Linked DNA regions of Homo sapiens: region 2 is linked to region 1. Evidence: fine-mapped expression QTL. A gene starts in region 1. The other region holds a variant in brackets. All regions are shown on one strand. Distances are from middle to middle.

Evidence for each region. PIP is the estimated chance that this variant, and not a neighbour inherited with it, causes the effect.
Region 2: its variant is fine-mapped to the expression of MGAM in neutrophils (BLUEPRINT, PIP 0.95).

The regions. Positions count from the first base shown.
Region 1 is chr7:141,992,763-141,998,152 of GRCh38, reverse strand. MGAM (maltase-glucoamylase) reads right to left here and starts at 2,274. Exons shown (of 71, transcript NM_001365693.1): 1 at 2,223-2,274. RefSeq lists an enhancer at 2,075-2,576.
Region 2 is chr7:142,104,922-142,110,311 of GRCh38, reverse strand. MGAM (maltase-glucoamylase) reads right to left here. Exons shown (of 71, transcript NM_001365693.1): 71 at 3,565-4,498. The coding sequence ends at 4,421. Among named protein-coding and RNA genes, the nearest start is that of MGAM2, 4.1 kb to the left of the region's middle. The variant AC/C (reference allele first, on the strand shown) is at 2,728.

The sequences.
Region 1 (5,390 bases):
TCCTGGTACCATTATAGTTCTTTAGGCAAAGTAGACAAACCACATGGGGGCCCAAATTATTAAAATGGCTATCTAAATTAATTTGGAAAAACTGGATATTTGTCCTCTTTCCGGCATTATAGCCAGCGTTTGATGTGTATATGGAGGTCTAAGCCATTCTTTTAAAATCCTTTGCTAACACAAGACATGAGATCTAGTGGAAAAGAGGATTCATTGTGGATAGATAGACTAAGAACAACTTGCAAAGAGGACCCCAGTGAGCCATAGCTATTCATCAAAAATGCTGGGCGATATTAGTAGGTTGGGCCATCCTTTCCCAGCTGCTTGGTGAATGGGAAGGGATAAGGTAGCTAATGAATGGCTTTTTTCTTCCAAGTCTGGTCACACCCAAGGTGAGAGATTTAAGAGTCAGCTCTGACCCTAGCCAGCTGTATGACCTTGGAAAAATCCACTTAACCCCTCTGGGTCTCAGTTTCCCCATCTGAACTGCAAAAGGATCATCTCTAGGAGACAGCTAACTCCTCCTTGAGCCCAGCAACAGGGTGTGCAAAGGCTTATATTTCTCATCACATTCCACAGCTGCCACCTGAACAAATTTTAAATGGAAAATTTCTTTTCTAGTTCCATTCCATGCTTATAGAACAATTTTTATAGTAATTTTATTAGCTCATTAAAATGTATTTGTGAGGGAATGCCTGATAATAAAAAATAATCATTGGCATCTTGTGAGAGTGTGACTGAAATAGCAACAAGCTGTCTTAAATTTAGTGTCCCACTTCATTTGGTCCCTGGTAGCACAGGGACCTACCAGCACAACAAACCAAAGACCCCCTCCATCTCACCCCCTCTTTGCACACCTACAGACATACACTTACTGTCCCACACCAGGACACAGACTGTAGACAGTTTGGACATTGGGAGGTCTTCCTCGCCCAGCAAAGCCACTGATCAGATCCTGCATGAAGAACCTAGTGGTATCCTTTTTCAGGGAGACCCATGGGGATTAGTCTCAATTTCTCTCTCTTTCCCCAAGAGTAACTCTCCCTTCCCACCTCTGTAACCAGTCAGAAAAGAAATGCCTGCGTGTGTCTAGCTAGACTGGCAACTAGTAAGGATCCAACTTTTTTTAAGTTTTATTTTAAGTTTTATTTTAAGTTTATTTTAAGTATTTTATTTTAAGTTTTTAAGTTTAAGGGCCAACAACAATTTATCACCTTCTCCTCTTCCCACGAGCACTCCCATTCTACTCCACACATGACTGCCAGGACAGATACCCTACCTTTCTCTTTATGACCTCCTCCCACATTCCACAGGAAACCTCTCCTACCCACCAATGCACACCAACTCATAAATGCATCCCAATATTTTACACACATCCTCAGACTATCCCCTAAAATTATTCTGTATTTAATCAACAGAGGCACCAAACCCATAAGCATAGTGATATATTTCTCAATTTTCTGATTATAATTGGTTCTTCAGTTACATTTTCTCAATCACAACTCCAAATCCTTTCAGAGGGAAAATGCTCTAATCTCACTCCCAAATTCTAACTCCTTTTATTCATTTCTCTCACTTCATTTCCAGAATCTGAAAGAATTTCTGCCTGCTACCTCAACCTAAGTATTAAATAATTCATCACACCTCACACAGAAACACACACAAACACACAGGTTTCACTACAATCAGGCTTATAGATCCAGCCTTAGTTCAGAAAAATATACACACACTAAGAAAAAAAGATAAATGAGAATTTTGTTCCATGTGTATGCATGTGCATAATTTTTGATTTATTATTGGTGTTGTTTATCTTTGTGTTTAACAAATTAACAAGGGCTTTTTTTTTTTTTTTGAGACGGAGTATCGCTCTACGACCCAGGCTGGAGTGCAGTGGCGTGATCTCGGCTCACTGCAAGCTCTACCTCCCAGGTTCACGCCATTCTCCTGCCTTAGCCTCTCCGAGTAGCTGGGACTACAGGCGCCCGCCACCATGCCCGGCTAATTTTTTGTATTTTTTTAGTAGAGATGGGGTTTCACCATGGTCTCGATCTCCTGATCTCGTGATCCACCCGCCTCGGCCTCCCAAAGTGCTGGGATTACAAGTGTGAGCCACTGCACCCGGCCAACAAGGGCATTTTGACTAAAAGAGATCAACTCAAATTCACACACACTTGTAGACACACATCTGTAACCGTAAAAGAATACAAGGTTCACAAACATACCTCATTACCTCTTGCAGCCGCTCCCTCTCTGTCTGAAGGATGGCTTAGCAATAAAAGCAGAGGAGCACAGTCCACCAAAGCAACCAAAGATCTGGTAACTATTTACCGACCTATCAAGAAAATGTTAATGGCTTTCAAATGCAAATGAATGGCCAGCTTTTATTTCCAGGATCAGAATTTTTAGTTAATTAGTAATCGTGGTCTTGCTCTAAGAAGGACATCCTTAAGACTTTTGGAAGGAAAAGCCAGCTCCCATGACCCACTCCATCCCCTCCAGGCACTGAATGTTTAATCGGTGGTGAGGACACCCTGTATGTCTGGTAAGAGAACACAGACACAATTTGTAGATGATAAAGAGCAAAAAATAAATGACCCCAGTATTCCAAAAGAGCCCTGGTCTCTTGCACTGACTCCGAATCTCTCAGGAACTCACTGACGTTTAGTAGCACAATCTGATGATTGTGATGGAAGGAAGTTGTTTTAAAAATGTTTTAAAAATAGTTTTCTTCTTTCTTCTTTAAGGTGTCCTTAAGCTTGTTTGCAGTATGGAAATCCTTTAACAGTCTGGTGACTCTTGAACTGCCTTTGCAGAACTATAAATAAGAGAAATCTAACAAGACTGACTCCATCTTGCTTCTAACCTCCCAGGCTAAATTATGTTTTCTAGGGGATTTTTTTTTTTTTTGGTTGGCTTTTTGCTTATTCTAGTACAAAGGCCAAGAAACCTATGAGAGGGATTTAGTTTATAGTTAAACTTGGAGTCAAGGGAAAATGATCCCCCTCCTTGCCTGGAGCTTAAAGGCGCATTCATAAGGCAAGGTTGGAATTATGGTAGGGGCTTAGACTTTGCTAAAGAATAGGCATAAACAATGTCCTGCCATGGCTTAGTTTGTTTTTCTATAAGTTGCTTACTGCCCCAGTCACACAACCAGTGTCACAAAATTCATAACTTCCCCAACTACCAAAGATAACATCACTGTATTGGTCTGTTTTCACACTTCTATAAAGACATGCCTGAGACTGGGTAATTTATAAAGAAAAGAGGTTTCGTTGACTCAGTTCCGCAAGGGTGGGAAGGCCTCAGGAAACAATCATGGTGGAAGGGGAAGCAGGGACTTCTTAACATGGCGGCAGGCCAGAGAGAGTGAGCAAGAGCAGGGAAAACTGCTTTGCAAAACCATCAGATCTCATGAGAACTCACCCACTATCATGAGAACAGCATAGGGGGATCCGCCCCCATGATCCAATCACATCCCACCTGGTCCCTCCCTTGACACATGGGGATTATGGGGATTACAATTCAAGATAAGATTTGGGTTCTGACACAAAGCCTAACCATATCAATCACTATTGTGAAACCTAAATAACTGGTCTTTTAGATATTTGTTAGCATTTCAGTAGACCAACAGACACCACCTAGTCTTGAGGCCAACACACACACCCCTCCTGGGAACTGACTCAGTTGCACAAAGACAGTTTTAGGTGCTCCTGTGATTTCATTCCCTGCCAATCAATTATACAAGTTCCCCAGCCCCATGCCCACCAAAGTACCCTTTACAAACCTTAGCCTTTGAATCCTGAGGGAGAGGGGATTGAGAAGTTTTTGCCTGCTCTTGTTTGGCCAACACTGTGATTATTCAACTCTTTATTTACTGCAATGCCTGCTGTTCTCATTGATCTTTTTGGAGGGCAGTGGGCAAGAAGAACTTATGGAGCTGAGACATGCTTATAAACCCCTCTTAGAATTAATTCTTAGGCCAGGTGCAGTGGCTCACGCCTGTAATCCCAGCACTTTGGGAGGCTGAGGTGGACAGATCACCTGAGGCCAGGAGTTCAAGACCAGCCTGGCCAACATGGTGAAACCGCGTCTCTACTAAAAGTACGAAAATTAGCCGGGCATGGCGGTGCGTGCCTGTAATCCCAGCTACTCATGAGGCTGCGGCAAGAGAATCACTTGAACCCAGGAGGCGGAGGTTGTAGTGAGCTGAGATACAAAGAAAATCAATTACATTGAAACACAGTTACTATAATATTTTTTAAATTATAGTTTGTGCCTCTTTAATGACATACTAACAATAAAGCGATATGTCTAATAGCGATTGCAATTTCAAAAACATGATAAGCGTAAACAATATCTTGAGATTGTTTTAAATATATGATGTGAAAGTAACTGTGACCTCTCTTGAAACCAAATTCATAGGTACTACTAACACCACTGTAGTTTGCAGCCTAACTCTAAATTTCAATTAGAATTTAGCAAAGAAAAGATATGTAAATATTTTCCCCCTCCAAGTTCACAGGCTTTCAGAATTATATCTACAAACCCCAGGTTAAGAACTTTGCTCTGTTACTAAGTGGACCTTCCTCCAAGTGGGGCAGAGTTCCCCGCTCTGTGATACTCCAAGAGTTATCTGTGAACCTGTGGTTGCCAGCTTCCAGAAAAATAAGCACAGAAATTGAAGGTAAGTGTTGAGAGACTTGCATTACAATTTGACAGAATCATTTCATGTCATTGATCTTGATAATTAAAAAATGGAGCTTGTATCTGTATATGCTTTTTTAAAATTTATTTTTCAAGTAATTTAGTTTTAATTTTACAAAAGCCACAGTCTGTGATATATTGGACAATTTTAAAACAATTGCTGTTTTACCACACATAGTTTAAAAAGTCCTGCTCAGCTACTGCTATTTCTAGGCATTTGTCTTTATGGGCTAGTGAAAATTCAGAAAAAAATCTGGGCCAAGAGACCTAAATTTATAAACCATGTATATCATCTGGAAAATACAAACAAAAATCACTATCTCTTATCACAGTCGTTTCACAGTAGACATAGACAGATAATCAAAATTGAATCAATTTATCTCTTTGAAAGTTTACTTCCTTATCCTTACTTTTCTGATTTCATGAACCATCAGTGAACAACAACCACCGTGGTAACACTGACTTACCGTGTTTCTTTGGCATCATAGAATCAAAGAATTTACAGCTAAAAGAGGAAAGAAAGGAAAACTGGCATGCATGGAGGCTGGCCGAGTGCCAAGACCTTGGGTCTGAAGCAGTGGCTCATACATGTAATCCTAGCACTTTGGGAGGCCAAGACGAGAAGATCACTTGAGCCCAGGAGTTCAAGGCCAGCCTGGGCAACATAAGGAGAACATGTCTCTACA
Region 2 (5,390 bases), 110 kb before region 1:
AGGGCAGTGGCAGTAGAAACCGCTACAGGGTAACCTGGGGCTTGTCCCTAGCCACATGGCCTACAAACCTGACTCTCTAGTCCTACCGGAGTTTCAATGAGTCACCAATATCTTTTTAAAATTTTTCTTAAGCCAGCTAAAGTGGATTTTTAAATTGACATATAATTTCCAAACCATAAGATTCACTCTTTTAAAGTATACAATTCAGTGTTTTTAAAAATATATTTACAAAATTCTGAAACTATCACCACTATCTAATTCCAGAACATTTTTGCCACCCCCAAAAATAATTAGTGGTCACTCCCCATTCCCATCTCCCCCTGTTTCTGCAGCCACTAACCTACTTTCTGTCCTTATGGATTTGCCTATTGTGAACATTTCATATAAATGCAGTAATACAATATGTGGCCATCTGTGTCTGGCTTCTTTTACTTGGCATGATATTTTCAAAGTTCATCCACACCATTTCAGGTATCAGTGTCTGTTCCTTTCCATGTCTGGATAGTATCCACTGCGTGGATAGACCACATTTTGTTTAGGCATGTATCAGCTGATATACATCTAGGTTGTTGATACTTTTTGCCTGTTATGAACGATGCTGCTATGAGCTGACACGTTTTAAAATTCTGCCTGGAATATACCTAGGAGTGGAATCATGGGTCATGTGACAAGTCTTTAACTTTTTGAAGAACTGCAAAACTGCTTTCTAATGTGGCAGCACCATTTTACACCCCCATTCCTGCCAGTAATATATGAGGGTACAGAGAGCTCTTTTGGTGGCACCTAAGAACTGTAAATAACAGTGTTCACAGTAGTGAATCTTTTGTGTTTGCTTCAAATGCTCAGTATGTGGAAAAGCACACATACACACACACACGGAGAGAGAGAGAGAAAGTGAGAGAGAGAGAGGGAGGGACAGAGAGAGAGAGAGAGAAAGAGAGACTCGGTTTCTGCATTTATGAACTGCTGGAATGACATATTCAGCTTTTCATTTGCCCCAGTACAAGGTGGCCTTTGTTAGAGGGGAAATGTACCAAGATCTCATTTCAAATTGGGAAGACATCCTGGCAAAAGGTCAAGAAGGGAGATTTTATTGTTACATAAGATCTATTTTTTGTGTGATATTTTACCTTTAACTCCCCACATGCCATGCACATTTGTGACTTCATTTATGTTAATAGTGGTAACCAACAGGCCCAGCTAATCTATAACCTGTTTCCTAAAGTGCAGAAAATAGCTACCTTCACCTTCCATTCTTGCTAACTAGTAACTGGAAGATATTGAATCACCATACTGGTGTTGACCAATGAGAAAATAACAGAGCCACTTTGAAGGGTAGAGACAGGCACGTGACCCGACATCTTCCAGTTGTCTATCGGTAACAAGGCACGGCAAAGTTAGCTATTGGCGGAACTCAAACAGTTGTCACAGCAAGCTGCTGGTTGGAATCATCAGATCAGAAACTAGTAATATGAGTCACCCTTAACTTCCAGAACACCTTTCTCCAAGGCCAGATGCAAAACTCTCAGTGACTCTGCCGCTATGACAAGAACAAAGAAATATTGATGAGATCTTGAAGACATCTGCCACGGCCAACATAACCTTATCTTTGCAGGTATATATGACATTTAATGTTATAACATTAATAAGAAAGGAATAGATGTCTTCCTATTTAAGTGAAAGAGTTTGAGAGTGTTTTTTTTTTTATTTTGGCACACCTATGAAGAAAGCAAAATTATGTGATCTAAAAAACAGAGCATATGTGGAAAAGGAAGGCCCCCAGCCTCTTCCTGAATAGCTGGCCAGGAGTTGTAAGCATAGGTCCATGTTGTAGGGGCTGCTCTGGGATGGCCACAAATGGATATGGTTCCATGAGAGGTGGTTCTCAGACTGTGATCTGAGGAACAACCTCTGGGGGTATTATTGAGCGAAAGGGCTCACTCTTCGATGCGCTAGAAGCCAATACTCTGATAAAGGGTTTCGAAGAAAAGCTTTTATTGCAAAGTCGACTCACAGGACACAGGAGTCCAGCTCAAACCTGTCTTCCTGTGCTGGCTTTAAGGAAGTATTTTTATCAGAAAAGACTTAGGGGGTGGATTCTGGGATTAGCAGGTGATTGGTAAAAGAAAGAGGAAATCTAGAAAGTCCTCAGGCATGCACAGTTATCTCTTCATGCCTCATCATGGGTCTCATGTGCAAATTTGGGAGGGAGTTAGTAAGAACCTGTGGTGGAAATTCAGGCTGTGACGTCAGCAAGCTCTTTCTGCGTTAACTCCGGTAAGCCATATTGGTTCCAACAGATAATCTCTTTTTCACACATTTCTGGCTGAAATTTAGCATTTTGTTAGGTTATGAATGTAGACAACAAAACACAGTAGTTTTCATAGCACATGAGTTTGTCAATAATGCAATCACAGATCTTTCCATATTACATTATGAAATTGTAGTGGATATCTCAAAATATTGTTGATGTTGATCATTACATTGAAATTATAGCATTGTTACTTCCACTGTTGGATCTTTTCATTTAATTTGATAATGAAAAAAACACATCTCATGGGTTACTATATCATCTTTAATATTTGGATAAGTGTATCGTAATATGATAAGTTTTCTTTGAAATAGCATGCATTTTGCTTGATGCATTTAAAAACAATGTTGTGAGGAAGAATTCCGTAGGTTTCACTAGGCTGTCAGTGGGGTCCCTGACACTTCGTGTGCTCCAAA[AC/C]CCCACTGGCCTCACTAGGGCCTTAGCCATCAGAATTATATAGTCAGAATGCCTCTCCTTAAGCATTCTGTGGCAGCCAGAGCCAAATTCCACCAACATATCCTTGATGGTAACATTAAATATTTTTTAAATATCAAGTAAATAACGTTTTCATCTTTGTGGCCTTCCTGAGTTTGTTAGAGGAAAGCTGACAAGTTTCCCACCTTTTTGATCAAAGGATTCCCATGGCTGCTTTTCCATATTTCACCAGTTTCCTAGTTAGCTCAGGCCCTCATCCAAATGCCCCGTATTGTGATAATTAGATGATTTAACAATATTGTTTGTCTCTAGCCTTATGCAGGTGCTGACACATGAGTGTGCAGGGAGAATGAATGGCTTCCTGGTTATAAGAAAAGAAGAAAACACAGAGAAGTAGGTTCATTCATTCCACACACATTCATTTTCAACTCATTTTCAGGTAACATCAAAAGTTAATATTCCTGTTGAACATTAATATATAATTTCCTTATCTCACATTTTAACCCTATAGAATTTTAAGCAAGAAGGTTGCAACTCCTATTTTTACTGGAGTTGGTATTTTCCTAAATATAGCAACTGCTATGATGATTAAAATAGTAATCAATAGACCCTTCCACAAACCCACATCTTATAAAAGACTCCTTGCAGAGATGTAAGAAAAAGGATAATTATAAAGGTTATCATCCTATTGGTGGATTTGGCTGTAGGTTCTGTGATGCCGAAGAGAACCAGAAAGACAAATTCATAAGAGTTTGCTAAACAAGAACCTTAACCCCAAACAGAGATTACTCATGGTCAAAATAGCACAAAATTCAAAATCACTTGCAAATTCACTTGTTTTATTTTTATCTGGCATATAAATTGCATATTTTTATGTGAAATGTGGTTGTATACATTAGAAATAAGATTTACACATTTCAAAGCACACTACTGCAAAAATAAATTATTTTTAACCTCCAAACTCTCTTTTGAGCTTTGCCTGCTCAGATCTCAATCTCACCAGTAGCCCTTTATGCTAAGGATTTCTCAAGACCCTCTTCTTCAAGTGAGTTGACTCTTCCTTTTTCCTCCCCATGAGGCTGCTGACAATTTTACATTATGTTCTTACTTAGGATCACTTTTACTATCATCTTCTGTTTCATCTGATCTTTCCTTGTGTTTGCCTTTTCTTTGCTTATCATGCTCCCCCCACCTATAACCAATTAGGTATATTATTCCTCCCACCGCCTATAACCAACTAGCAGATGTTCTTTCTGGATACTTTCTTGAGATGCTGATTAGCTTCAAGACCTGGAACTGTCACAGAAAGCTTTCTCTTGTGTATTTAACAAAAGAATGGGGTCCATTCTATGATTACAAACGTGGACATACACACACTTCATCATGGACCCAGTTCATCTTCAGTAAATGTCATATGATGAACAGTCACTACCATACTAACCACACAGAGACATTAAGGTAATGCATAGATTTTCCACACCTCCCTAACTGCCTATCCCACAGGGCTAAGGTTTAACCTTTAGGGTTCACACAAAAAACATATAACAAAATTAACAGAAATATTTCACCAATAGTGGGTATGAACAAATTAGCAACACACAATAATTTTTATGAGTATGAAGTATAAGTAGTTTCAAAGTCATTCATAGTTAGTTAGAATCTTGCTGTAAAAATTCACAGAGTGCTTATCCACGTCAATGAAGTAAAATTATGTAGGCTGATGTTTCTGTCAGTCACATCGATGCTTAATACCTGTTAGGAACCAAAGGAAAAGAATTGGGCATCCGGTGTTGAAATTTCCTGCATGCAAATAAATCAGGTGCAAGTATCCAGTCCAAATAACCCCCTAATACTTCTACATTGTATTGTCTAGTTAAAAGACTGCCTTCAAAGTTTCAGATGAGAAGGGTGTTTTCTAATTTTTTAGAGTACAAAGATTATTCAGTGGTAGAGATGGGCCTTTAAATAATTCAATATGGGCCGGGTGCGGTGGCTCACGCCGGTAATCCCAACACTCCGGGAGGCCCAGGTGGGTGGATCATTTGAGGTCAGGAGTTTGAGACCAGCCTGGCCAACATGGTGAAACCCCAGCTCTAATAAAAATACAAAAATTAGCCAGGCGTGGTGGCAGGTGCCTGTAATCCCAGCTACTAGGGAGGCTAAGCCAGGAGAATCACTTGAACTTGGGAGGCGGAGACTGCAGTGAGCTAAGATTGCACCAGTGTACTTCAGCCTAGGCAACAGAGTGAGACTCAGTCAAAAAAAAAAAAAATGTTCAATATGCAACCGCTGAAGAGAAACAACTGCACAAACTGGAGAGAATGCCCTCTTTTCCATTCTACTGAGGTGTTGATTTTCCTTGGCACCATCCTTCTGTTTCCTCCTTCTCCTATTCCACTATAGCACCCCAGTGTTTGCCCAGCAAGAGTCCACTATTCCTGCTTCTTCCTAGGCAGATGCTGTCAAGAAGCTTTCACTGCATGTGCCCTCATCAGCTTGCATGTCTGTCCCTGAGCTGGTCAGCAACAGGATTGGGCAAAGTCCTTTATGGTATAGTTGGGGAAGTTGTTGACAAGAAAACCACAAGTATGAGGAAATAACTGTAAAGAATGCAAAACTGAAAGAAAACTTTTGTTTCAGGCTT